2 separate regions of the Homo sapiens genome follow, and region 1 is linked to region 2. Evidence: fine-mapped QTL for protein levels in blood plasma. A gene starts in region 2. The other region holds a variant in brackets. All regions are shown on one strand. Distances are from middle to middle.

What was found. PIP is the chance, under the fine-mapping model, that this variant and not a neighbour inherited with it causes the effect. Protein levels are from antibody-based Olink assays in UK Biobank. Linkage for the fine-mapping came from a reference panel and not from the study's own genotypes, which makes the PIPs less certain.
Region 1: its variant is fine-mapped to the plasma level of the CCL2 protein (UK Biobank, PIP 0.97).

The regions. Positions count from the first base shown.
Region 1 is chr17:34,199,173-34,215,122 of GRCh38, forward strand. No RefSeq gene overlaps it. Among named protein-coding and RNA genes, the nearest start is that of LINC01989, 24 kb to the left of the region's middle. RefSeq lists enhancers at 4,936-5,437, 5,438-5,937. The variant T/A (reference allele first, on the strand shown) is at 7,232.
Region 2 is chr17:34,250,857-34,264,649 of GRCh38, forward strand. It overlaps CCL2 (C-C motif chemokine ligand 2), which reads left to right and starts at 4,429. Exons shown (of 3, transcript NM_002982.4): 1 at 4,429-4,569; 2 at 5,366-5,483; 3 at 5,866-6,347. The coding sequence starts at 4,494. The coding sequence ends at 5,971. RefSeq lists enhancers at 1,008-2,207, 3,151-4,125, 4,126-5,100.

The DNA of each region.
Region 1 (15,950 bases), 51 kb before region 2:
ATCGGAATTCTTGTAGTAGGTACGTAAATGGCATAATTACTTTGGAAAAATGTTTGTCAGTTTCTTACACAGTTAAACATGCATCTACCTGCGACCCATCAATTTTACTTCTGGAAATTCGCCCAAGATAAATAAAAACCACACAAAGGACTCACAAAGTTCACCCAAAGACTTATACACAAACGTGCCTGCAGTTTTTTGCACCACAGCATAAATCTGGAAACAGTCAAAAAATCTATCAAGAGGATGGATAAATGAATTATGTATTTATTCACTGAAATACCACTTAACAATAGAAGAAAACAAACTGCGGATACCTACAAAAGCATGGATAAATTTCAAAAACAATTTGTTGTGCTAGAGAAGCTAGACACAAAAGAGTGTATACTGTACACTTCCGTTTATATAAAGTCCTTGAAAGGGCAAAACAAACTATAGCAAGAGAAGTCAGATCAAGGATTGCCTGGGGTAGGTAGGAAGTGGTGAAGATTGACTACCAAGCGCCATGAGAAAACTTTGTGGGATAACAGAAACGTTCAATATTTTGACTGGGGCGGTGGTTCCACGTGCATATACAGTTGTCAAAACTTATCAATGTGTACATTTAAAGAGCATGCGTTTTGTTGTGTGAAAATAAATTGTATGTGAATAAATGTGATTTTAAAAAATAATAAAGTTCTCCACATATTTCTTAGGTCCCTTAAAGAGTGAGCACTGCTTGTCAGTGCCAGAGCCTCTGTCTCATTAATCTTTTAATCGCAGTCTATACAATATCTGGCACTTGGTAAGTGCTCCCCAGGTAGAGTTTGAGAGAAGGTAGGTCGGGAGAGCACGCATTGTTGGAGGGGTGTGAGGAGGAACAGAACACAAGCAGGACTAGACAAATATGCTCTTCTGCTAGAAACCTCTTTCACCATAAGGTGGCAGCAGAGAGCACCTGGCAATGTCTTTACCTACTTAATCCAGCAGGTGACAGCAGACCCACACTAACCTCTACACGAAGTTGCATTTTCCCCTCTCTTTCCTACGGTTACCACAATCTCAGCCCAGCCACTCCGCCAGGCAGAAAAGGGAGACTTAAATGGAAAAGAATAAGAACATACCCATGATCCCCATATATGACGGGCACTGTTCTCCATGCTTAATAGGCAACATGTAATTATACTTAATGTAATATCCATGCTTAATAAACAGTATTTCATTTCCATGCCCATCCTTTATCATGGGTATGATTTTCTTTGTTGTAAAGACAAGTAAACAAAGCTTCAGAGAAGGAGAACATGTTCCTAATCACGGATCTAGAAGTGATAGCGATGGAGTTTGAGTCTGCTTTTTCTTTCCATGTCATCCTGTCCAAACCTATAGACCAAAATGATCCATACAGAGGTTATGTATTGGTGTTCACTGCAGCAGTGTTCTAACTGCTCATGTGCATTAGCTCATGTAATCTTCACAACGAGTTGAGGTAGGAACAGTTGTTATCCCTATTTATTTTATTTATTTATTTATTTATTTATTTATTGTGTTTTTGAAACAGTGTTACTCTGTCACCCACTCTGGAGTGCAGTGGTGCGACCATAGGTCACTGCATCCTCAAACTTCCAGGCTCAAGCAATCCTCCCACCTCAGCCTCCAGAGTAGCTAGGGCTACAGGTGTCAGCCATTGTGCCTAGCCTGGTTATCGCCATTTTAAAGGTAGGCAGTGACACTGAGACACTGATAGGTTAATGAACTTGTAAAGTTCACATCATTAGTAAAAGCTGCAGCTGCCACTGGAGTTCAGGGTCTGACCCTGAACCTTAATCCTTCACTGCAGAACTAGCTACCAAGTGACCACTTTGACGAGCCTTGAGGAAAAGGCGGAGGGGGCTTTAGCACACACTCAGCTAACGAAAGTGTGCCGGTTCATTTCCCACAGCTCCACACAAACTCCCAGGGGTAGTAAAGAATAGCTTCTCCCTCCTCTGTGTCCCTGAGAAGTCCCAGGGGCATTCAGAGATTTACTGTCATCCCTGTCCAACCCATAGGAGTCTTCTAAGACCCATGCTTCTTCACCCATCTAGCCAGCCAGCCTTTATTGAGTACCTACTGAATGCCAAGCCTTAATTATGAAAACACAGAGCCTTTCTTCAAAGAGCTTTCATACTGAGGGGAAGATCACATGCAAAAGCAAGCAAAAGCAAAACTGCAGAGAGATACTTCTGCTGGTGACTAATTACCATGTGGATGGCGCAGAATTTCTGTCTAGTCAGGGAGGACTTCCTGTAGGAGGGGAGGTCTTCCACTGAGACTTAGAGGGTGAGTAAGGCTTGAAGAGATGGAGAAAGAAGTCAGGATACAGTCTTGGCCTGAGTGAAGAGGTTTAGTGAGAATAGAGAGGTCAGCTAGGCCAGAGGGAGGGTCTTGGGAGGAATAGCTGAAAATACAACTGGAGGGGTTGGTTGGGGGCATATTGTGGAAGGTCTTGAGGGCTCAGATGAGAGCCTTTTTGTATCTCTTAAACTGATGGCTTATGAATGGCTGGAAGCCATTCAAAGTGCATAGAAAGAGAGTGGCAAGAGGAAGCCAGTTCCTAGGAAATTAACATAGGCAAGCCTGTGCAAAAAGGAATGGAACTGGGGAGCCTGCAGGGGCAAGAAGAAGGGACCTAGTCCATGTGGAATGTTTCCTATGTGTCAAGTACTTAGTATTTAGCCTACGTTATGACAGCTAATTCTCCGTAGAGCCCTGAAAGATCTGTGCAGTTATCATCTCTGGTTTATAAATGACTAAAATGAGACACAGTGAGGTTAAACATGTTTCTCAAGGTTACCTGACTAAAACCAAAAAAGCTGAGTTTCAAACTCCCACAACCTAACACCAAAGCTCGCTTTCTTAACCACTATGCTCGACTGCCTTTATATCATGGGTCATGCAAAATCCAACCTAAGTCTAAGAGATATTTAACCTCATCTGAGACATCTATCAGGTTGGAAAACATTTAGGGCTCTTCCCTGAAAGATGCCACTGTGCTCAAAATAGGCAATGTCTCTAAACGAATAATTAGAGAGGCATTCTCAGTGTTAGAAGTGTGGAAAGCTGAGGACCATGCCTGGCTTGTGAATTCAGAGGCTATAGTAATAAATACTTGATAGTGTTTATTCTTTTAAGAGGCTGATGGGAATCACAGTGGCCCTCAGGAGAGAGAAGCCATCAGAGAAGGGCAGCAGTGGTGCCAATGCTAAACACCTCCATCATCTCTTCCTTGAAAGGCAGGGAGGGCATAAATACCTTGCTGCCACACTGGAGGCGCTCAGGAAGACCTGGAATAATTGGAGAGAAAGCACTCCTAAAAGCAAGTAGAAACTGCCTGCAGCTCTTTTGGTGTGGTTGGATGTGGTTGCAGATTTATCTGGCTTATCTTCTCAGGCATAGAATAATTGCTGTCCTGCAGGGCAAGCTCCGAAGAGATTTCCCCAGAAGCAAGCAGAGTCCTGTCTAAAGCAGAAATAGCCATGGCATAGCAGCAGCACCACCCCGCGGAGTTAGCTACTAGCGCTGTCACGCATGTTGGAGCTACTGCAGGAAGAGGTGGCAGCATGGGGGGAAAGAATGGGAGGTATCAGGTCTGCATGGAAGAAAACTGGAAACAAAGCCACTGGCTCGTGAGAGTTTGAAGCTCATGAGAATTTAGGGAAAACTTCCACATACACGGCTCTGTACTCTTCAGCTTTCAGAGCTCCAGAAGATCAGAGTCCAGGGTGGAATCTGTCATTGAGAGAAGAGACTTGGAAGACAGTGGCTGCAGGGAGGAAAGTGATGGCATTGTAGTGATGGAGAGCTTAGCCCTTGTCTGAATGAGGCTCTGACAGGTGTGGTCACCTATGACAAACCCGTGGGTAATGTATACAAGAAGGCTGATAGTTGTGGCACTGAGCCATCTTCTAAAAAGACCACATTTGAAGGGAAGAAGAAACCTTGCTCAGTGAGATTAATCAAGCAAGGACTTCTTGGTTAGGGAAGGCAAACTGTTTTGATGCATTGGTCAGGATAGGCTAGGTTGTGCTGCAGTAACAAGCTATCCCCAGACTTCAGCAGTTTTTAACATAAATGTTCCTTTCTCACTCATCCAAAGCACCTTTCTGGGCAAGGACTCTGTTTTTCATATTCCATCAGGGACCCAGCATCTGGGATGTCACCAGTTGCTGAGTCAAGGCAAGAAAGAACTAAGTGTCCTGGGCTTTAACGGGAAGTGATATCACTTCTAGCCACGGATTGGAACTAGTCACATGGACCCAATTAATGCAAGGGCAGCTGGAAGGTGTCAAGGAGCAGAGTGGGGTCTGGTGAGCACCACCTTCTCTGGCGTGCTTAGCAGAGTCTGGTGTCTGTCATTCCAAGAAATCTCTGACTGAGCTCCTAAGGATCTATGACTTATGAGCCCCTGGGGGACTCCAAATAAAAACTAAAAGAATCATTTTACTAAGAATTCTGTGAGGCATTGAGGTAGAGCCACACTGCCTGGACACTGCTTCTTTGGACAAGCCTCACACAAAGAGGGAAGATGCATGCCCTCTTCCTCAGAAACAACTGTACATCATGGCATTCAACATACCAGGAGCAGTGGCACCAGTGATCCCCAACAGAATGCCACTAGCCTTCTCAGAGCAGAGGCAGAGCCTGGCATAAATGGATGTGTCTGTTTGAGTGTTGGCAGCACATGAGAGCCCCACTGGGTCTGATTGTGCCTGGGGACTATTTCAGAAAGCTAAGATCTTTGTTATGCATGTGGAGAACAAGAGCTGGAGATGGTGACCTCCTATTGAGTCTAATAAGACTGGTAACACTGATTGGATTATGTCCATATTACAGATGAGGACCTTGAGGTTTGGGGAAATTAACGGCCTTTCCAAAGTCACCTGGTTAATGCATGGCAGAGCCAGAGCCTGTTGACCCTATTGCATGATTTGAAATCATCATGTTTGGGAGGCATGCACTGTGTAAGAAGACAAGGAACTGGAGCCAGGATGCCAACTTCCTGAGTGACCTTGGGCACATTATTTGAGGGCCTCCATTTCTCTATTTGTAAAGAGTAAAGCTGGATGAGATGTCTCAAAGTCTTTTCTGTTCCCACTGAAGGTCTGTTGCTGCAACCCCATTGGAGCTGATGACAGACTCCATCAGCTGGAAGTCTGCTCAACCTGCTCCACCTGCTCTACCACCTCCAGTACCTGGAAGTCCAAAATTAGGAGAACAGAGCCCACGGCCTCATGCCACCACACCTGCTTTCACCAGCTCCTGGAGAAGTTGGACAGCTAGAGAAGGGAAAGCATGCTGGGCTGGAGCCCAGTGGGGTCACACTGTGGGCTCCCTGCTACTGTCCTCTGCTCCAACCTGGCCAGCCACCAGCTCGGCCCTGGGGTGGGGAGAGGTGGCATCAACAGTCAGGAGCTGCAGCCTGGGGGCTGCCCTGCCCTGCAAGGCTTCTTGCTGTATGTCATTCTTGCTGTATGTCCTTGCATGCGGCCTGGCCCTGCCTTAAGCAGGGGCCTGCTCCTGACAAGCAGCTCAGCTAGGGAGGAGAGGCCATTGCAGCAGATGGGCGGATGAAGACCAGGTGGGAGCATGAGGCCAGATCACGAGAGTCCTGAGCCCCCCATGGAAGACCGTTCCAGGCCATCCCTGGCCCTGAGTGTCATCTCCCACTATCCCTGTCACTAAGGTCCCCCATAAGTTTGACTTTGCAAGCTCCCTCCCCGAGATTTAGGCATCCTTGGGACTTAGCTCCTCTCTCTAGCACCCGCGTGCACGGAGTCCTCCCCATCGCCGGAGCATGAGTCCATGCTTGAGACTAAGCCTTCTCCCCATGCCTGGCACTGAGTGCCATCCACGTTATGATGTGCAACTGAGCCCTGACATTGAGTGGCCTTTACCTACCTGACACCTAGCACCCCTGATGTCCCATAGTTAGTGCTTCCCTGATAGAAGAATGCCTCTTATCCTCCTCAGCAGGTGGCCTCCCTCCCACTTTGGCAGTCTCTTGCTGTGACCCTAGCCCCACTTGGCGTGTCATCTCACCATTACAGCCTTAGCTCCTCTGTTCAAATGTAGCCAGCACCTACTGAAGTTGTACCATGTGACAGTGATGTTCAATGCTCTTGTTAAACACACAAACCAGGCTCCCAAGCTTCTGTCTGTGCCCTTTCTCCTCTACTGCATGCCCTCATTCCCCTCGGCACACTGAATTCTCCCTGGGTAGCCTCTGCAGTTCTGGGAGAACCAGTACCCATCAGTGCTCTAGGGCTCCCAAGTCCTGCAGCCTTCTGGGAATGCCTTTCCTTTCCCATCTGCCATCACACTAATGATAATAGTCGGCCACCTCCAGGATGCCCTAGGATTCCCAAGGTATTACATTCTTTGTGGCTTTTTTCACTTCTGAGTCAGAAAGGCTACTCTGAGCTTTCCCTCTCACCTCTGAACACTTCTGCAAGCCAGACTTGAACCCAACATTTCCACCACCTTCCTCCTGGGCCTTCCCTACTGCAAAGCTAACTCAAGGTTGGGTGATGTCACTTGTATCATGAAGGTTTCAGCAATTGCCATGTGGGAGAGAAAACAGCTGAATGTTAAATACCAGGTTCCATTCTTGAGTCAATGGTCACCTTAAACCCCAACCTGCCCTAGGAACAGAGCCCCTTCTGCCATCTCTTTCTTTTTTTTTTTTTTTTTGAGACAGAGTCTTGCTCTTTTGCCCAGGCTGCAGTGAAGTGATGTGATCTCGGCTCACTACAACCTCCATCCCTTGGGGTTTAAGCGATTCTCCTGCCTCAGCCTCCAAAGTAGCTGGGATTTCAGGTGCCCGCCACCACACCTGGCTAATTTTTGTACTTATAGTAGAGACACAGTTTCACCATGTTGGCCAGGCTGGTCTCGAACTCCTGACCTCAGGTGATCCACCCGACTCAGCCTCCCAAAGTGCTAGGATTACAGGCATGAGCCACTGCACTCAGCCTCTGCCATCTCTTCCTTCCCTTGGGACCCACTCCAGCACTTACGCCCTTTAATAGAAACCAAAATGCCACTCACCCAAAAGTAACCTCAAGCAAGGAAGTTGTCCTTCCACTTTCTTACCCCCAGAAATGACCTCTTTATTTCTCACCCTCCCCTTCCTCATGAGGCCTTGAGATCTGAAACTGCTGAACAGCAGGGGCCCTGAAAGTGTTTTTCCAAATGGAATAACATGCTTCCTTCC[T/A]CATCCAGTGAGCTAGAAAGTGGCTGCAGTTTGTTTGCAGTAGCAGTTTTTTGTTTTTTATTTTTTACCGCTGCACATACATTTTCAAAGACATGGACCTCACTGACCCTCCCAGCATCATTTGGCTTCAGGCCACATCACCTACACCACTTCTTGACAGAGCCAAGAGTGATGCTGGAAGGGGAAGCAGGAAGCAGAAGAAGAAAGGGACCCAGAACAGTGGAATGCAGGAGCTCAGGGGCCACGCAGGAGTGTGGTTCTGCGTCTGGCCCAGGCACATCACACCTGCCTTGGGCATAGTATCCTCAAACCTGCTAGTTGAGGGGCGGGAAAAATTCACAGAATATTTTAGTGATTTCTTGCTCAGATAATCTGAGATTTGCCTCTAAATCATGAAAGTGAGCCTGAGGCCAAGCATCAGGCCTTCAGGGAATTGAGATTGGACACAATGATAAACTTGAATTCCCAGCCCAATAAACTTATCTCTCTGGCAGGAACTTGCAGAGGCAAGTATTCCAGACCAAGCTTTGAAGGAACACAGTGGAATAAGAAAGCAAGAAAATAAAAAGTTGCTGTGTATCACTTGTATGCCAAGTAATATTCATCTATTATATCATAGCATTATAAAATTGAGATATAATTTATACTATGCCATAATATTCATCCCTTTAAAGTGTACAGTTCAGTGGTTTTAGTATATTTACAATGTCATGCAATGACCACCACTGTTTAATTCCAGAACATCCTCATTACCCCCATACTTCTTTGCAGTCACCCCTACCTCTTCCCAGTCCCTGGCAGCCACTACTTTGTATCTTCTCAGATTAGCCTTTTCTGAATGTTTTACATACCATATGCGGTATTTTGTGATAAATACCTTTGACTTAGCATAGTGTTTTCAAGGTTCATACATGTGGTGGTATCTTTAATCTTTTACTCATTTTTATGGCTATACAATACTCTATTATACAGATATATGACATTTTATTTATCCATTCATCAGTTATTGAATATTTGCATTCCTTCTACCTTGGGCTATTATGAAAAATGCTATGAACATGCATGTATAATTTTTTTTATATGAACACATGTTTTACATTTTCTTGGGTAGATACCTAGGGTAGAATTGCAGGGTAATATGGTAACTCAATGTCTGCCTTTTTGAGAAACTGCCAAACTGTTTTCTGTGGTGGCTGTTCCATTTTACCTTCTCAACAACAATGTATGAGGGTTGCAATTTCTCCATATTCTCACCAATACTTAGAAATGTTCATCTTTTTTATTGTAGCCCTTCTTGTGGGTACGAAGTGGTTTGTCATTGTGGTTTCGATTTGCATTTTCCTAATGACTAATGATGTTGAGCATTTTTTCATGTGCTTATTGGTCATTTGTGTATCTTCCTTGAAGGAATGTCTATTCAAGTCATTTGTCCATTTAAAAAATTGGGTTGTCTTCTATTGTTGCATTGTAAGAGTTCTTTAAATATCCTGGATACAAAACTCATAACAAACATGATTCAGTTATATTCTCCCATTCTGAAGACTATCTTTTTACTTTATTAATAGTGTCCTATGAAGTACAAAAGTTTTCATTTTGGAGGAGTCCAATTTAACTGTTTTTTTCTTTTGTTGCTTGTGCATTTAGTGTCATATCTAAAAAACATTGCCTGATCTAAGGTCATGAAGATTTACTCATATGTTTTCTTCTAAGAGTTTAATAGTCTTATCTTTTACATTTAGGTCTTTAATTCATTTTGAAATAATTTTTTATATGGTATGAGCCAGGGGCCTAACTTTATTTTTTTGTATGTGGCTAACTGGTTGTCCCAGCACCATGCAGTGAGGGACTATTCTTTCCCCATTGAATTATCTTGGCACCCTTGATGAAAATCAATTGACCATGAGTGTGAGTTTGTCTCTGAATTCTCAATGTTATTTTATTGGTCTATACATCTATTCTTATGCCAGTACCACACAGTTTTGATTACTGTAGCTTTGTAATAAGTATTGAAATTGTTAATTGTGAGTCTTCCAACTTAGTTCCTCTTTCTTTTTTTTTTTCTTTCCTTTTTTTTTTTTGTGAGAGGGAGTCTCGTGCTGTCACTCAGGCTGGAGTGCAGTGGCACAATCTCAGCTCACTGCAAGCTCTGCCTCCCGGGTTTACACCATTCTCCTGCCTCAGCCTCCCCGGTAGCTGGGACTACAGGCACCTGCCAACACCACGCCTGGCTAATTGTTTGTATTTTTAGTAGACACGGGGTTTCACCATGTTATCCAGGATGGTCTCGATCTCTTGACCTTATGATCCACCTGCATCGGCCTCCCAAAGTGCTGGGATTACAGGCATGAGCCACAGCGCTCAGCCTCTTAGTTCCTCTTTCTTAGGACTCTTGAGTATTCTAGTTGCTTGAATTTCAATATAAATTTTGGGAGCAGCTTGTCAATTTCTACAAAAATGGCAGTGATATTTTGATAGAGATGGTGCTTAATCTGCTAAACAATTTGAGGAGTATGTTAGCCAGAGTTCTTCAGAGAGCCAGAACCAATGGGATACATAGGTAGAAAGATTAGATTAGATTAGATAGATAGATAGATATGAGAGGGAATTTATTAGAGGAATTAGCTCACATGATTATGATGGCTGAGAAGTCCCACCACAGGCTGTCTGTAAGCTGGAGACGCCTGGCTTAGTCCAAGTCCAAGGGACCCAGAATCAGAGAAAGCGGTGGTGTAACTCTCAGTCTGAGGCTGAAGCCCTGATAACCTAGGGGGGCACTGGTATGAGTCCTGAAGTCCAAAGGCCAGGGAGCCTGGAGTTCTGATATTCAAGGACAGGAGAGGAAGAGTGTATCCCAGCTCTAGCATATAGATGGACAAATACACTTCTGTTCTGTTTTTGTTCATTCTGGGCCCCTGCCAACTGAATAGTGCCCACCTACATGGAGGGTGGATATTTTCCACCTCGCTCAGTAAGAATCACATGCTAATCTCCTCTAGAAACATCCTCACAGATACACTCAGAAGTTATGTTTTACCAGCTTTTTAGGTATTCCTTAATCCAGTCAAGTTGACTCCTAAAACTAACCATCATAAGGAGTACTGCCATCTTAACAATATTGTTTTCTATTCCATGAACATGTTTTTTTTTGTATGCTTAAGTCCTTTTTAACTTATTTCATTGATGTTTTGTAGTTTTCAGTGTACAGGTTTTGCATTACTTTTATTAAATTTACTCCTAAGTACTTTATTCTTTTTGGTACTATTATAAATGGAATTGTTTACTTAACTTCACTAAATTTCCAATGTATAAAACCATAATTGATTTTTTCTTTTTATTTTTTATTTTTATTATTTTTTTTATTATACTTTAAGTTCTAGGGTACATGTGCACAATGTGCAGGTTTGTTACGTATGTATACCTGTGCCATGTTGGTGTGCTGCACCCGTTAACTCTTCATTTACATTAGGTTTATCTCCTAATGCTATCCCTCCCCCACCCCTCACCCCACGATAGGCCCTGGTGTGTGATGTTCCCCATCCTGTGTCCAAGTGTTTTCATTGTACAGTTCCCACCTATGAGTGAGAATATGAAGTGTTTGGTTTTCTGTCCTTGTGATAGTTTGCTCAGAATGATGGTTTCCAGCTTCATCCATATCCCTACAAAGGACATGAACTCATCATTTTTATGGCTGCATAGTGTTCCATGGTATATGTGTGCCACATTTTCTTAATCCAGTCTATCATTGATGCCCTTTTGGGTTGGTTCCAAGTCTTGGCTATTGTGAATAGTGCCACAATAAACATACATGTGCATGTGTCTTTACAGCAGCATGATTTATAATCCTTTGGGTATATACCCAGTAATGGGATGGCTGGATCAAATAGTATTCCTAGTTCTAGATCCTTGAAGAATCGCCACACTGTCTTCCACAATGGTTGAACTAGTTTACAGTCCCACCAACAGTGTAAAAGTGTTCCTATTTCTCCACATCCTCTCCAGCACCTGTTGTTTCCTGACTTTTTAAATGATCGCCATTCTAACTGGTGTGAGATGGTATCTCATTGTGGTTTTGATTTGCATTCCTCTAATGGCCAGTGATGATGAGCATTTTTTCATGTATCTGTTGGCTGGATCTATCTCTTCTTTTGAGAAGTGTCTATTTATATATTTTGCCCACTTTTCGATGGGGTTGTTTGGTATTTTTCTTGTAAATTTAAGTTCTTTGTAGATTCTGGATATTAGCCCTTTGTCAGATGGGTAGATTGTAAAAATTTTCTCCCATTCTGTAGGTTGCCTGTTCAATCTGATGGTAGTTTCTCTTGCTGTGCAGAAGCTCTTTAGTTTAATTAGATCCAATTTGTCAATTTTGGCTTTTGTTGCCATTGCTTTTGGTGTTTTAGACACGAAGTCCTTGACCATGCCTATGTCCTGAATGGTATTGCCTAAGTTTTATTCTAGGGTTTTTATGGTTTTAGGTCTAACGTTTAAGTCTTTAATCCATCTTGAATTAATTTTTGTATAAGGTGTAAGGAAGGGATCCAATTTCAGCTTCTACATATGGCTAGCCAATTTTCCCAGCACCATTTATTAAATACGGAATCCTTTCCCCATTTCTTGTTTTTGGCAGGTTTGTCAAAGATCAGATGGTTGTAGATGTGTGGTATCATTACCAAGGGCTCTGTTCTGTTCCATTGGTCTATATCTCCATTTTGGTACCAGTACCATGCTGTTTTGGTTACTGTAGCCTTGTAGCATAGTTTGAAGTCTGGTAGCATGATGCCTCCAGGTTTGTTCTTTTGGCTTAGGATTGTCTTGGCAATGCGGGCTCTTTTTTGATTTCATATGAACTTTAAAGTAGTTTTTTCCAATTCTGTGAAGAAAGTCATTGGTAGCTTGATGGGAATGGCATTGAATCTATAAATTACCTTCGGCAGTATGGTCATTTTCACAATGTTGATTCTTCCTATCCATGAGCATGGAATGTTCTTCCATTTGTTTGTGGCTTTTATTTCATTGAGCAGTGGTTTATAGTTCTCCTTGAAGAGGTCCTTCACATCCCTTGTAAGTTGGATTCCTAGGTATTTTATTCTCTTTGAAGCAATTGTGAATGGGAGTTCACTCATGATTTGGCTCTCTGTTTGTCTGTTATTGGTGTATAAGAATGCTTGTGATTTTTGCACATTGAGTTTGTATCCTGAGACTTTGCTGAAGTTGCTTATCAGCTTAAGTAGATTTTGGGCTGAGGTGATGGGGTTTTCTAAATATACAGTCATGTCATCTGCAAACAGGGACAATTTGACTTCCTCTTTTCCTAATTGAATACCCTTTATTTCTTTCTCCGCCCTGATTGCCCTGGCCAGAACTTCCAATACTATGTTGAATACGAGTGGTGAGAGAGGGCATCTCTGTCCTGTGCCAGTTTTCAAAGGGAATGCTTCCAGTTTTTGCCCATTCAGTATGATATTGGTGGTGGGTTTGTCATAGATAGCTCTTATTATTTTGAGATACGTCCCATCAATACCTAATTTATTGAGAGTTTTTAGCATGAAGCGCTGTTGAATTTTGTCAAAGGCCTTTTCTGCATCTATTGAGATAATCATGTGGTTTTTGTCGTTGGTTCTGTTTATATGATGGATTATGTTTATTGATTTGCGTGTGTTGAACCAGCCTTGCATCCTAGGGATGAAGCCGACTTGATCATGGTGGATAAGCTTTCTGATGTGCTGCTGGTTTCGGTTTGCCAGTATTTTACTGAGGATTTTCACATCGATGTTCATCAGGGATATTGGTCTAAAATTCTCATTTTTGATGTGTCTCTGCCAGGCTTTGGTATCAGGATGATGCTGGCCTCATAAAATGAGTTAGGGAGGATTCCCTCTTCTTCTATTGATTGGAATAGTGTCAGAAGGAATGGTACCAGTTCCTCTTTTACCTCTGGTAGAATTCGGCTGTGAATCCATCTGGTCCTGGACTTTTTTTGGTTGGTAAACTATTGATTATTGCCACAATTTCAGCTCCTGTTATTGGTCTATTCAGAGATTCAACTTCTTCCTGGTTTAGTCTTGGGAGAGTGTATGTGTCGAGGAATTTATCCATTTCTTCTAGATTTTCTAGTTTATTTGCGTAGAGGTGTTTGTAGTATTCTCTGATGGTAGTTTGTATTTCTGTGGGATCAGTGGTGATATCCCCTTTATCATTTTTTATTGTGTCTATTTGATTCTTCTCTCTTTTTTTCTTTATTAGTCTTGCTAGCGGTCTATCAATTTTGTTGATCCTTTCAAAAAACCAGCTCCTGGATTCATTGATTTTTTGAATGGTTTTTTGTGTCTCTATTTCCTTCAGTTCTGCTCTAATTTTAGTTATTTCTTGCCTTCTGCTAGCTTTTGACTGTGTTTGCTCTTGCTTTTCTAGTTCTTTTAATTGTGATGTTAGGGTGTCAATTTTGGATCTTTCCTGCTTTCTCTTGTGGGCATTTAGTGCTATAAATTTCCCTCTACACACTGCTTTGAATGCATCCCAGAGATTCTGGTATGTCGTGTCTTTGTTCTCATTGGTTTCAAAGAACATCTTTATTTCTGCCTTCATTTCGTTATGTACCCAGTAGTCATTCAGGAGCAGGTTGTTCAGTTTCCATGTAGTTGAGCGGCTTTGAGTGAGATTCTTAATCCTGAGTTCTAGTTTGATTGCACTGTGGTCTGAGAGATAGTTTATTATAATTTCTGTTCTTTCACATTTGCTGAGGAGAGCTTTACTTCCAACTATGTGATCAATTTTGGAATAGGTGTGCTGTGGTGCTGAAAACAATGTATATTCTGTTGATTTGGGGTGGAGAGTTCTGCAGATGTCTATTAGGTCCACTTGGTGCAGAGCTGAGTTCAATTCCTGGATATCCTTGCTAACTTTCTGTCTCATTGATCTGTCTAATGTTGACAGTAGGGTGTTAAAGTCTCCCATTATTACTGTGTGGGAGTCTAAATCTCTTTGTAGGTCTCTAAGGACTTGCTTTATGAATCTGGGTGCTCCTGTATTGGGTGCATATATATTTAGGATAGTTAGCTCTTCTTGTTGAATTGATCCCTTTACCAATATGTAATGGCCTTCTTTGTCTCTTTTGATCTTTGTTGGCTTAAATTCTGTTTTATCAGAGACTAGGATTGCAACCCCTGCTTTTCTTTGTTTTCCATTTGCTTGGTAGATCTTCCTCCATCCCTTTATTTTGAGCCTATGTGTGTCTCTGCACATGAGATGGGTCTCCTGAATATAGCACACTGATGGGTCTTGACTCTTTATCCAATTTGCCAGTCTGTGTCTTTTAATTGGAGCATTTAGCCCATTTACATTTAAGGTTAATATTGTTATGTGTGAATTTGATCCTGTCATTATGATGTTAGCTGGTTATTTTGCTTGTTAGTTGATGCAGTTTCTTCCTAGTCTTGATGATCTTTACAATTTGGCATGTTTTTGCAGTGGCTGGTACCGGTTGTTCCTTTCCACGTTTAGTGCTTCCTTCAGGAGCTCTTGCAAGGCAGGCCTGGTGGTGACAAAATCTCTTGGCATTTGCTTGTCTGTAAAGTATTTTATTTCTCCTTCACTTATGAAGCTTAGTTTAGCTGGATATGAAATTCTGGGTTGAAAATTCTTTTCATTAAGAACGTGAATATTGGCCCCCACTCTCTTCTGGCTTGTAGAGTTTCTGCCAAGAGATCTGCTGTTAGTCTGATGGGCTTCCCTTTGTGGGTAACCCGACCTTTCTCTCTGGTGGCCCTTAATATTTTTTCCTTCATTTCAACTTTGGTGATTCTGAAAATTATGTGTCTTGGAGTTGCTCTTCTTGAGATGTATCTTTGTGGTGTTCTCTGTATTTCCTGAATTTGAATGTTGGCCTGTCTTTTTAGGTTAGGGAAGTTCTCCTGGATAATATCCTGAAGAGTGTTTTCCAACTTGGTTCCATTCTCCCTGTCACTTTCAGGTACACCAATCAGGCGTAGATTTGGTCTTTTCACATAGTCCCATATTTCTTGGAGGCTTTGTTTGTTTCTTTTTACTCTTTTTTCTCTAAACTTCTCTTCTCGCTTCATTTCATTCATTTGATCTTCAATCACTGATAACCTTTCTTCCACTTGATCGAATTGGCTACTGAAGCTTGTGCATGTGTCATGTAGTTCTTGTGCCATGGTTTTAAGCTCCATCAGGTCATTTAAGGTCTTCTCTATGCTGTTTATTCTAGTTAGCCATTCATCTAATCTTTTTTCAAGGTTTTTAGCCTCTTTGCAATGGATTCGAACACTCTCCTTTAGCTCAGAGAAGTTTGTTATTACCGATCATCTGAAGCCTTCTTCTCTCAGCTTGTCAAAGTCATTCTCCATCCAATTTTTGTCCATTGCTGGTGAGGAGCTGTGTTCCTTTGGAGGAGAAGAGGCACTCTGATTTTTAGAATTTTCAGCTTTTCTGCTCCGGTTTCTCCCCATCTTTGTGGTTTTATCTACATTTGGTCTTTGATGATGGTGACGTACAGATGGGGTTTTGGTGTGGATGTCCTTTCTGTTTGTTAGTTTTCCTTCTAACAGTCAGGATCCTCAGCTGCAGATCTGTTGGAGTTTGCTGGAGGTCCACTCCAGAACCTGTTTGCCTGGGTATCATCAGCGGAAGCTGCAGAACAGCAAATATTGCAGAATGGCAAATGTTGCTGCCTGAACATTCCTCTGGATGCTTCATCTCA
Region 2 (13,793 bases):
TTTGTAAGTTTGCCCAAAATGTGACCCCTCCTTCACCCACCGATCGCCAAGGTTCAAAAATCTGCCCAACCCTTGAGCCCATCTTAAATGTACCATCACGAGCCTTCCCTGGGCCCCTCAGCTGGGACTCTCACCGCTCTGTATCTTTCTGGTTAATGCAATTATTCTGTTCCCTTAGATGACCCCAGCACAGGTGCTAAAGGAGTCAACAAAAGGCTATTGTCAAAAAAGTGTTTCTGTCTCCACTCCATCTGATCTCTGTTTCCCTAAGACCTGCCCATCCCCCTCTCCCAGTTCGGCACCTTGACCCCCTCATCACACTGCTCAGGCCACCTTGTACAATGCAAGCCCCAAATGAGGAAAGCATTTTCTCCCCCAATGTGTAACACGAAAGTGCTGTAGAGTGGCTCACGCTGCCTTTAGCCTAAGAATTTATTTAACTCTTACCCCCAACCCACATCAGTCTCCTCCCTCTAGGGCTCAGGTGCTAATCTGTGAGGGCTGGCTCAGAAGACAATCTAAAGAACAAGCCTCTTGCTTCCTCAGGCATCACTACTCCTCACCACCATCACCCCCACCCACCAACTCAGGCCACTACTCTTTCTGTTCTCATATGCTATGCCCATCGCCACCCCTATTCCCATGCTCAGGAGTATTCTTGGCTACTGCATGCAATTAGACCTGGGGCAGATCCAATCCAGAAAGCAAGAAATCTTAGATGCTGGAAGCTTGGGGTAAGTACTGATCAGATTTATTCCTAAATTCAGTCCTACTTTCCATGGATTCTTACTTTAGCATCTCTTCTGAAAAGGAAGCATCATGTCTAATTCACTTCTCCCTCCCTGTGCAGTCCTCTACCTGGTGCTCTGCACAGGGTATGTGCTAATTGTATGAATGTTATAATAAAGAGATAGTGCAGTAGATGACAAAGGGCACTACATTGAGAGCCCAGAAATAAGCAAACCAGCACAAATGTAGCCATTCGTCTTCTATCTCACCTTGAGCCTGTCACTAACCTGTTCATGGCCTCAGTCTCCCCATCAGAGAAACAGGTAGATGGTCTCTAAGGTCTCGTTCATTTTCTGACATTCTGTGAAAAATTAAGGAAAGATTTTCATCCTTGACAGGAAAGGGATTGCAGAGTAGCGGCCCTGGGAAAATGGGCTCTATTCTACCTGGAGCTAGCCTGGAGGAGAGGCCTTGAGTGGGGGTTGTCTAGAAAGGACATGGTGAGTGCAGAGCTACGGTGCATCTCTCTTGAAGGCTGAGTGAAGGGAGCACCAGCAAGGGAGCCTGCACTAGGTGGGGAGGGACAAGTGAACCGCAGAAGTTGGTGGGAGCCCAGGCAGTGGCTTCAGATCTTTCCAGAGAGCTCACTTTTACTTCCTCTTTTTTTCACCCCTGACACTGAGTGGGAGTCTGCAGCGATGACCAAGGTTCATGCAGAGGATCTTAGTGGTGGGGTCAGACCCCGGGAGGAATGAAGAAAGCATTATTCACCAAGAGGAGCTTTTCCATTCTTTATCTATGAGTTGATAGAGAGGAGGCCCCGGGGTAACTGAGGATTCTGGACAGCATCAGAGCATTGACCCTCATTTTCCCCATAGCCCCTCTGGGGGCCTTTCCCTTGTGTGTCCCCAAGCGAGAGTCCAACCCAGGTTTGTGCCAGAGCCTAACCCAGGCTTGTGCCGAGATGTTCCCAGCACAGCCCCATGTGAGAGCTCCCTGGCTCCGGGCCCAGTATCTGGAATGCAGGCTCCAGCCAAATGCATTCTCTTCTACGGGATCTGGGAACTTCCAAAGCTGCCTCCTCAGAGTGGGAATTTCCACTCACTTCTCTCACGCCAGCACTGACCTCCCAGCGGGGGAGGGCATCTTTTCTTGACAGAGCAGAAGTGGGAGGCAGACAGCTATCACTTTCCAGAAGACTTTCTTTTCTGATTCATACCCTTCACCTTCCCTGTGTTTACTGTCTGATATATGCAAAGGCCAAGTCACTTTCCAGAGATGACAACTCCTTCCTGAAGTAGAGACATGCTTCCAACACTCAGAAGCCTATGTGAACACTCAGCCAGCAAAGCTGGGAAGTTTTTCTCTGTGACCATGGGCTAATTGGTCTCCTTCTCTGGATTGTGGCTTTATCAGATAAAAACAAGTGGTCATGCCACAGGATGTCTATAAGCCCATTGATTCTGGGATTCTATGAGTGATGCTGATATGACTAAGCCAGGAGAGACTTATTTAAAGATCTCAGCATCTTTCAGCTTGTTAACCTAGAGAAAACCCGAAGCATGACTGGATTATAAAGGGAAATTGAATGCGGTCCACCAAGTTCATGGTAAAGGATGCACTAACTGATTAGAGAGAGGTTTCCCCTGATATGAGGAAAACTTCTTGGAAGATGAGGTGAGATGGCCTAGGAAGAAATTCCTACACAAAGTTGCACAGTCTCTAGTCCTGGAAACATTTTATTCATTGGATAAGAATGGATTGAGGCATGAGCAGAGGACTGAGACAAACACAGAGAAGTTTCAACACTGGTTGGGGAGAAAAGGAGTAACTAGTGAGATTCAGGCAGAACAAGAATAAGGCTCCTCAAGAGGCACAAGCAAAGCAGGGCTCGAGTTGATTTGTTCTCTCTTCATCCTGCTTTTTGTAATTCCACCAGAGTCTGAAATGGCCACTCCATAGAGTCTCTGCTCTGGGATTCTCCAGGAAACCAATATCCATCATGAGACATCAAGTCTAGTCCCAGGAAGAAGAGATTCTGGAATGGAAACATCCTGGGTGGGAGTCTCAGCACATCTACTATTCTGTCTGAGTTACTGGACAAATAACTTCAGTTTTAACCTAACGAAAGCTGGGTTGGTTGGAGGACTGGGCAGGCAGCGCTGGAAAGTATGTCAGCACCATACCTGACTCCCTGAATGCACTCAACAATGCCATTACTGACCACTTACTAGAAATAAAACAGTCATTTGTTGAATACAACCCGTTTCTTTTTACAAGTGTAGTGAAAAGTGTTTTCTTTCAAGAAACCCCATGCATTTATAGACATTGCCTCAGTGACCCTTTATGAAAGAAGTCACTAGTCTTTGTATGCCCATTGGGCAAGGGCACCGCAAGGCTCAGAAGGAGGAGGCAGTGGGCTAGGAGAATCGAGAGATCAGAATTTTAAACTCAGCCCAGCCATTAACATGCCTCAAGTACTCCTATCATATTTGTAAGAGACAACAGTTCACTGAAATGAATTCTAAGGTCTTTGGGTTTTTATCAGTGTGCTTCTGTAGTTTCTGAGGAAATCTAAGGCACAACTGAGGAATGAAGTCAGGCTTTCCAATTCCCGAAATACTCCTCCACTGCTTACTCATGTCCCTTGGAAATTAAGAAGGAAGCCAGGAGAATAGCTGCCATAACCAGGGATGAACTTCTTGTCCACTGCTGCCTGCTATGCTAGCAACAGCCTCCTAACTCATAATGACTTAGCCATGAGGAATGTTTCTAGATTCTCCTTTAGCTGTCTGCCCATTTGGAAGATGCTGAGGACAGAGAGAGGACCCAAGCAGGCAACTAGTTGGAGGACTTGTACACGTTTCCTTCCAGCAGTATGTCAGAGAGGTGGCAGCCCACTGGGGACAGGGCTGCCTGGGTTCTGTGCTCGAGGGGACCTTGAGCAGGCTATTTAACCCTTCTGTGCCTCAGTTGCCTGATCTATAACATGAAAATTAGCAATCCCTACTAGATAAAGTTGGGGAATTTACAGAGTTAATATTTGTAAAGGTCTGAGAATATTCCTGGCAGAGTAAGCACTCTGTGAGTATGACACTGGCATTTCTTCTGCAGCACTACATGCTGTCTATGCCTTTGTCCAAGTCTGAAACCCTAGAACTCTTAGAATTCAGTTCAATGTTTACACAATCCTACAGTTCTGCTAGGCTTCTATGATGCTACTATTCTGCATTTGAATGAGCAAATGGATTTAATGCATTGTCAGGGAGCCGGCCAAAGCTTGAGAGCTCCTTCCTGGCTGGGAGGCCCCTTGGAATGTGGCCTGAAGGTAAGCTGGCAGCGAGCCTGACATGCTTTCATCTAGTTTCCTCGCTTCCTTCCTTTTCTGCAGTTTTCGCTTCAGAGAAAGCAGAATCCTTAAAAATAACCCTCTTAGTTCACATCTGTGGTCAGTCTGGGCTTAATGGCACCCCATCCTCCCCATTTGCTCATTTGGTCTCAGCAGTGAATGGAAAAAGTGTCTCGTCCTGACCCCCTGCTTCCCTTTCCTACTTCCTGGAAATCCACAGGATGCTGCATTTGCTCAGCAGATTTAACAGCCCACTTATCACTCATGGAAGATCCCTCCTCCTGCTTGACTCCGCCCTCTCTCCCTCTGCCCGCTTTCAATAAGAGGCAGAGACAGCAGCCAGAGGAACCGAGAGGCTGAGACTAACCCAGAAACATCCAATTCTCAAACTGAAGCTCGCACTCTCGCCTCCAGCATGAAAGTCTCTGCCGCCCTTCTGTGCCTGCTGCTCATAGCAGCCACCTTCATTCCCCAAGGGCTCGCTCAGCCAGGTAAGGCCCCCTCTTCTTCTCCTTGAACCACATTGTCTTCTCTCTGAGTTATCATGGACCATCCAAGCAGACGTGGTACCCACAGTCTTGCTTTAACGCTACTTTTCCAAGATAAGGTGACTCAGAAAAGGACAAGGGGTGAGCCCAACCACACAGCTGCTGCTCGGCAGAGCCTGAACTAGAATTCCAGCTGTGAACCCCAAATCCAGCTCCTTCCAGGATTCCAGCTCTGGGAACACACTCAGCGCAGTTACTCCCCCAGCTGCTTCCAGCAGAGTTTGGGGATCAGGGTAATCAAAGAGAGGGTGGGTGTGTAGGCTGTTTCCAGACACGCTGGAGACCCAGAATCTGGTCTGTGCTTCATTCACCTTAGCTTCCAGAGACGGTGACTCTGCAGAGGTAATGAGTATCAGGGAAACTCATGACCAGGCATAGCCTATTCAGAGTCTAAAAGGAGGCTCATAGTGGGGCTCCCCAGCTGATCTTCCCTGGTGCTGATCATCTGGATTATTGGTCCGTCTTAATGACACTTGTAGGCATTATCTAGCTTTAACAGCTCCTCCTTCTCTCTGTCCATTATCAATGTTATATACCCATTTTACAGCATAGGAAACTGAGTCATTGGGTCAAAGATCACATTCTAGCTCTGAGGTATAGGCAGAAGCACTGGGATTTAATGAGCTCTTTGTCTTCTCCTGCCTGCCTTTTGCTTTTTCCTCATGACTCTTTTCTGCTCTTAAGATCAGAATAATCCAGTTCATCCTAAAATGCTTTTTCTTTGTGGTTTATTTTCCAGATGCAATCAATGCCCCAGTCACCTGCTGTTATAACTTCACCAATAGGAAGATCTCAGTGCAGAGGCTCGCGAGCTATAGAAGAATCACCAGCAGCAAGTGTCCCAAAGAAGCTGTGATGTGAGTTCAGCACACCAACCTTCCCTGGCCTGAAGTTCTTCCTTGTGGAGCAAGGGACAAGCCTCATAAACCTAGAGTCAGAGAGTGCACTATTTAACTTAATGTACAAAGGTTCCCAATGGGAAAACTGAGGCACCAAGGGAAAAAGTGAACCCCAACATCACTCTCCACCTGGGTGCCTATTCAGAACACCCCAATTTCTTTAGCTTGAAGTCAGGATGGCTCCACCTGGACACCTATAGGAGCAGTTTGCCCTGGGTTCCCTCCTTCCACCTGCGTTCCTCCTCTAGCTCCCATGGCAGCCCTTTGGTGCAGAATGGGCTGCACTTCTAGACCAAAACTGCAAAGGAACTTCATCTAACTCTGTCCTCCCTCCCCACAGCTTCAAGACCATTGTGGCCAAGGAGATCTGTGCTGACCCCAAGCAGAAGTGGGTTCAGGATTCCATGGACCACCTGGACAAGCAAACCCAAACTCCGAAGACTTGAACACTCACTCCACAACCCAAGAATCTGCAGCTAACTTATTTTCCCCTAGCTTTCCCCAGACACCCTGTTTTATTTTATTATAATGAATTTTGTTTGTTGATGTGAAACATTATGCCTTAAGTAATGTTAATTCTTATTTAAGTTATTGATGTTTTAAGTTTATCTTTCATGGTACTAGTGTTTTTTAGATACAGAGACTTGGGGAAATTGCTTTTCCTCTTGAACCACAGTTCTACCCCTGGGATGTTTTGAGGGTCTTTGCAAGAATCATTAATACAAAGAATTTTTTTTAACATTCCAATGCATTGCTAAAATATTATTGTGGAAATGAATATTTTGTAACTATTACACCAAATAAATATATTTTTGTACAAAACCTGACTTCCAGTGTTTTCTTGAAGGAAATTACAAAGCTGAGAGTATGAGCTTGGTGGTGACAAAGGAACATGATTTCAGAGGGTGGGGCTTACATTTTGAAGGAATGGGAAAGTGGATTGGCCCCGGTCTTCTCCACTGGGTGGTCTCCTCTGAGTCTCCGTAGAAGAATCTTTATGGCAGGCCAGTTAGGCATTAAAGCACCACCCTTCCAGTCTTCAACATAAGCAGCCCAGAGTCCAATGACCCTGGTCACCCATTTAGCAAGAGCCCAACCCCCATTCCTTTTCTCACAGACCCTGACCCCTGCATGCAATTCTTCCCTTAACATATTGCAACTGCCCCCTAACTGGGCTACCCACCCCCCAATCTGTACCTCTCCAATTAATACCCCAACCTGGAGTAATACAGACACTGCCAGTATTAGGAAATAAGGAAAGAGTTAATCACCATAGATAAGATGATTAGATTGAAGTTTCATAGAGATGATGAGACCTGAACTTATTATTTATGAATGAAGAAGGCTTTTCTAGGAAAATTATAGGATCATTAAGAAAGGAGAAGGAAGAGTGGGAGCAAATACCTGGAGGTAGAAATGGTGATGATGTGTACATCAAGCAGGGAGAAAACCAATGAACCAGATGCGAATTCGGGCCCACACCAATGTCAAGGGATGACAATTAGAAAGGAAGGTTGAGTCAAGGGATTTGAATGTTAGGGTGAAAAGTTACTACTCAACTCTGTAGGTTAAAAGGAAACGTTGAGAATCTTCAGTCCAATGAGGAGGGATGTGCCATGTTTAGAGATTCAGAGATAAGTTTCAGGAAATGTAACTTATAGATTTTATACATACACAGAGAAATACGGACTAGTGAGAAGCTATTGCCATGGTCCAAGCAAGAGATGATGAAGGCCTAAATATGGAGCCAAAGAGGCAGCAATGAAGAATGAGCCATGCAGGGTGAAATGCTGCATGTTGTAAATGGAGGAGAAAGACCTGTGACTTCAGATATGAAAACCTCATCTTCAACCCACATTTTAAGGGGGCAGCTTCCCTGAAACCAGAATGTGTTTCCCTCCATTACTATACCCCCATCCCAATCTCAGGCACCTGGAATCATCCATTTAAACAGATGAGCCTTCTATTCCTAAATAGCCACCTGAAGTGTGTATTCCTTTGCATGATATTTGTCCCACCTAAAGCATTCGACCTGCCTGGGCACCCACACCACGCCAACACTCAGGAAAGCAGATGTCTTGCTCTGTTGAATAAACTGCATGGTTCTTAACTTCCCAGTCTGGTGGGGAAATGACCACTGTGTCAACCTAGAGCAGGCAGTGCTTTTGGCAGCATGAGGTGCTGGGGACAACTTTGACTGGCAAGAAGCACACTCAGGTTCTCACCCCGCATCCAGCGCTGACTCGCTTTGTCAGTCAAGACAGGTCAGATATTCTGAGCCTACATCGATCATACAGGTATGATAATGTGTTACAAATAGGAACCCAGAGGAAAGGTTCCCTTTCGGATCTGGGAGCACATCTGTTGGAAAACTTCCATTTCTACTAACTGGAGTTGCAGAGGGAGAGAAGGGATTCTGCTTCTACATTCCTGAGCCAGTCCAGGGTCCCTGAATCAGACTACCGAATCCCTTCAAAGCTCCAAGTACCCTGATATATCAGTCAGCAGACAATTTATTGACAGCTATTTAGAAAACTCACTGACCCTCACTCCAGGTCAAGCAGCGTCCCCTGCCTCTCCTCTACCCCTACATTCCCTGGCCTTGATCACCAGTCAGGAGTGAAATCTCAAATTGCAGTAGATGCCAAGAGGCAAAAAGAGAATAGAATGCAAACAAATGAGACCTCATCATACGGCTTCCGAGCAGCAACCTTTTGACGCCAGGCAGATTTGAGGCAGACAGTCTGGGAGGAGAGGAGGCAGAGAAAGGGGGGATCCACATGCTCAAACCCCAAATTAATCTGCTTACATTCCCCTTGCAGGCCACATCTCTTCATTTTCAGGAAGTCTTGACTCCATACTGTTTTCCACCCAAGCATGGAATTCCTTTCATGATGAAACTGAACACAGGGCATTGGCAGTGGTGAGACTCTGTTTTAGAAGAAAGTGCCAAGTGCAATGCATTCATTTCCTGTTGCTGCCAACAATCAGTTCCAGGAAATCTAGGCTTTTTATGTCATGCTCAAAATTCTTCCAGCCTATGCTCATTATTCAAATCCAAAGCCACATCCACATCTGTAGGTGTTAGTTACAGAAGCACCATATTTCCAGGTACCAAAATCTGTATTAGTTTCTTATTGTTACTGTAACAAATTCCCATAAGCTTAATGGCTTAAAACAACAAAAATACATTGTCTTATAGTTCTGGAGGTCAGAGTTATCATGGGTCCATAGGGCTATATTCATTCCTTCCAGAGGTTCTATGGGAGAATCCATTTTCTTGCTTTTTTCCAACTGCTAGAGGCTACCTCAATTCCTTAACTCATGGTCTCTTCCTGTGTCTTCAAAAACCTCTCTCTCTCTCTCTCTCACTCCTTTTCTTTCATAGTCACATCTTGTCTCTGACTCTGACTTTCCTGCCTTCATCTTAAAAGGTGATTATATTGTGATTATGCTGAGCCCATTTGGATAATCCAGGATAACATCTTCATCTCAAGATTCTTAAGTTAATCACATTTATAAAATTTCTTTTGCTATGTCAGGTAGCATACTTATAGAGCATAGGGATTCGATTAGGATGTAGGCTTTTTTTTTTTTTTTTTTTTTTTTTGGAAATGGAGTCTCGCTCTATTGCCCAGGCTGGAGTGCAGTAGCACAATCTCAGCTCACTGCAACCTCTGTCTCCTGGGTTCAAGTGATTCTCCTGCCTCAGCCTCCCAAGTAACTGTGATTACAGATGTGCACCACCACACCTGGCTAATTTTTGTATTTTTAGTAGAGATGGGGTTTTACCATGTTGGCCAGGCTGGTCTCGAACTCCTGACCTCAGGTGATCCACCCGCCTCAGACTCCCAGAGTACAGGTGTGAGACACCACGCCTGGCTACAAGGATGTGAGCATCTTTGGGAGGGGAGCACTACTGGGACAATCACAGCCAGGAGCCAGGTGAAGATTTACAATAGGTAGTTGGACACTAAGACATGGCCTTTGAGATCTGTATCTGGTTTGGTGACTAGATTGTCAGGTAAACTTTTGCAAGTCACCTTTTATCTATGGGTTCATAGGCTGTGGATTTAATTTGTGCATTAAATGCTTCCTAAGTGACCTAAGGTATATTGGAGTCACCTGAGGTCTTTCCAAAACATCACAACATCCTCAAAGATTCTGATTTAGAATGTTACAATGCAGGGAAGGCTCCTCTTCCCATTGCTGTATTTTACGAGTTCCCTAGAAGATGGATACTGGTGCACAGATGAGTTTGATGCCATGTGCTCCTCAGTTCTCTCATATTCAGGTCATTGGAGCCAACAGCCAGTCCTGGTAACCTCTGACTTGGGTTTTCATAGTGTCCTTTGTTCTGACCTAGCCTTGACCAATTTACAATCAGGAACAAAAGGGAGCATAGAGTCGAGACATTTAGGACATTGTAAAGTTTGAAATACAACTGTTCACCATCCCAGGCAGTGGAATGGAATTTTTAAAAATGATTTGAACAACAAAATATCCATAAAACCTTTCAGTTTGACAGAGTGGCTTCAGGAAGAGAGTGGGTTAACAATGTGGCATTCCCATTCTAGCCCGGCAGCCTGATCCTAAAAGACAGTTATGGGTCGGGTGTGGAGGAAGCACAGAAATATGTCAAGCACTGCGAGTAGAAAGAGATTTTACATGTCTTTACTGGCAGATTGGAAAAGTGCTAGTAATTTTTTGAGAAAATTATGTTGCCAGGAAAATCAGAAGCCAAGACTGAAAAAGCCTTTGACTATTCTATCTATAAAACAACTTCCGAATCTTCCATGAGCTAGAAACAAGCCATGACAGCCACTGAATTAGGAGGGCATGTCCACTGAGTTCCATGTACAGTATGGCCAAGGAGAAGAAATGGACAAGCAAGGGCCTCACAGAAGGTGGATCTGGGGCCCCGGACAAGGAAGCCCTTCCTGCAAGTGAGCTCAGAGCCCCTGTTCCTGTTCCAGGAAGAGTCCCTTTTGATGTCTGCCCAGCAGTATATCAGAATTGCTACAAGTCAGTCATTGCTGTGTGTCCCCCAGTCTTCCTTGTCCAATGAGAATGTTTACTTTAAGCATCTTGTTCCTATTCCACCTTGTAAATGAGTGTTTAAATTGAGCAGATAAATTGTTCATTTTTTAAAAGTACTGTCAATCTTTCATTTGGAGGCTATAAAATTCATTTCCATAAGGTATCATTATCTCTTTTTTAAAGTTTTCAATTTTGAAAAATTTTGGTTAAAAAATGCATACCATGAAATGTATCATATTTACCATTTTTAAGTGTATACTTCAGTATTGTTAATGTTCATATACTTAACATTGTTGTGCAATAGATTTCCATCTTGTAAATCCATCTTGTAAAACTGAAACTGCATACTCATTAAACAATACCTGCTCATTTCCTCCGCTGCCCAGCCCCGGCAACCACCATTCTACTTTCCTCTTCTATGAATTTGACTACTTTAGGTACCTTCTGTAAGTGGGATTATACAATATGTGTCTTTTGGTGAATGGTTATTTTATTTAGCATAATGTTCTCAAGGTTCATTTATGTTAAGGCATGTGTCAAAATTCCCTTCTTTTTTAAGGTTGAATAATATTCCATTGTATGTATATACCACATTTTGTTTATCTGTTCATTCAGTGATGGACAGCTGGGTTGTTTTCATCTCGTGGTTATTGTGCAGGATGCTGTTCTGAATGTGGATATGCAAATGTCTCTTCCAGATTCTGCTTTCAGTTCCTTTGGATATATACCCACAAGTGGGATTGCTGCATCATTTGGTAATCATATTTTTATTTTTTTAAGATCTACCATATTGTTTCCATAGTAGCTGCACCATTTTACATTCCCACCAACAGTAAACAAAGATTCCAGTTTTATCGCATCCTTGTCTTCGCTTGTTATTTTCTGTCTTTTTGATACTAGCCATCCTAATGGAGGTGAGGTGATACCTCCCTATGGTCTTGATTTGCAACTTTCTAGTATTAGTGATATTGAGCATCTTTTCAGATGCATGTTGGTCGTTTGTATATCATCTTTGGAAAATGTATATTGAAATCCTTTGCCTATTTTTAATTGGGTTATTTGTTTTGTATTGTCGATGCTGTAGAAGTTCTTTTTTTTCTTTTGAGACAGAGTTTCACTTTGTTGCCCAGGATGGAGTGCAGTGGTGTGATCTCAGTTCACTGCAACCTCCACCTGCTGGGTTCAAGCGATTCTCGTACCTCAGCCTTCTGTGTAGCTGGGATTACAGGCACACACCATCACACCCAGCTAATCTTTTGTATTTTTAGTAGAGACTTGGTTTCACTACTTTGGCCAGGCAGGTCTCTAACTCCTAGCCTCAAGTGATCTGCCTGCCTCAGCCTCCCAAAGTGTTGAGATTACAGGCGTAAGCCACTGTGCCCAACCTGAAATTCTTTATATATTCTAATGTTAACCCCTTATCAGTTACATGATTTGTAAGTATTTTCTCTCATTTCATAGACTGACTTTTCATTCTGCTGATTGTGCCCTTCAATACACCAAAGTGTTTAAGTTTGATGTAATTCCATTTATCTATTTTTGCTTTGGTTCCCTGTGCTTTTGGTGTTATATCAACAAAAAAAAAAAAAAAAAAAAAAAAAAACAGCCAAGCGCAGTGGCTTACGCTTATAATCCCAGCACTATGGGAGTCTGAGGCGGGCAGATCACTTGAGGTCAGGAGTTCAAGACCAGCCTGGCCAACATGGTGAAGCCCCATTTCTACTAAAAATACAAAATTAGCCAGACATGGTGGTGAATACCTGTAATCCCAGCTACTTGGGAGGCTGAGGGAGGAGAGTCATTTGAACCTGGGAAACAGAGGTTGCAGTGAGCTGAGATCGTGTCATTGCACTCCAGCCTGGGCAAAAAGAGTGAAATTCCATTTCAAAAAAAAAAAATTGTCAAATCCAATATCATAAAGATTTCCCCCTACTTTCTTCTGGGGGTTTATAATTTTACATCTTGCATTTAGGTCTTTGATCCATTTCGAGTTGAATTTTGTATATGGTATAATATAAGGGTCCAGCTTTTTTTTTTTTTGAGACGGAGTTTCACTCTTGTTGCCCAGGCTGGAGTGCAATGGCGTGATCTTGGCTCACTGCAACCTCCGTCTCCCGGGTTCGAGCGATTCTCCTGCCTCAGCCTCCCGAGTAGCTGGGATTACAGGCACGCGCCACCACCCGGGCTAATTCTGTATTTTTAGTAGAGACGGGATTTCTCCATGTTGGTCATGCTGGTTTTGAACTCCCGACCTCAGGTGATCCACCCGCCTCGGCCTCCCAAAGTGCTGGGATTACAGGCGTGAACCAGTGCTCCCAGCAAGGGTCCAGCTTTAATCTTTTCATTTGGATATCTAGTTTTCCCAACATCAACTGTTTAAGAGACTGACATTTCCTTACTGAGTGGTCTTGACATCCTTGTCAAAGATCATTTGACCATATACAAGAGATTTTATTTCTGGGCTCTCTATTCTATTCTACTGGTCTATATGTCTGTCTTTATGCCAATAACACATTATTTTGATTATTGTAGAATTGTAATATGTTTTGAAATTGATAAGAGTGAGACCTTCAAGTTTGTTTTTCTTTTTCAAAATTGTTTTTGACTATTTGGAATTATTTGATATTCCATGTGAATTTTAAGATGGGTTTTTCTATTTTGGCAAAGATACCATTGGGATTCTGATAGGATTGCACTGAATCTGTAGATTACTTGAGTAGCATTGTTAAGCTGTCAATCTCAACAATATTAATTCTTCCAATTCATACACCTGGGATGTCTTCTCATTTATTTGTATCTTCTTTAATTTTGGGCAATATTTTGTAGTTTTTGTTGTTCAAGTTTTTACTTCTAGATATTGGCTTATCCCTAATATTTTATTCTTTTCAATGCTATTGTAAATGGAATTGTTTTATTAATTTTCTTTTCAAAGTGTTTATTGTTCATGTATATAAAATGTCTGATTTTTGTGTGTTGATTTGTTGTGTTGTATTTGTACTCTGCCGAATTCCTTTATTAGGTGTAACAGTTCTTTTGCATGTGTGAAATTTTCAGGGTTTTCTACATATAAAGTCATATCATCTGGAAACAGATAATTTTACTTCTTCCTTTCCAATTTAGATGACTTTTTTTCTTGTTTTGTTCAGATGGGTCTCATTCCAGTACTATATTTAACTGAAATGACAGAAGCAAGAAAGTGCTTTCAGTCTTTTTCTATTGTGTATGTTT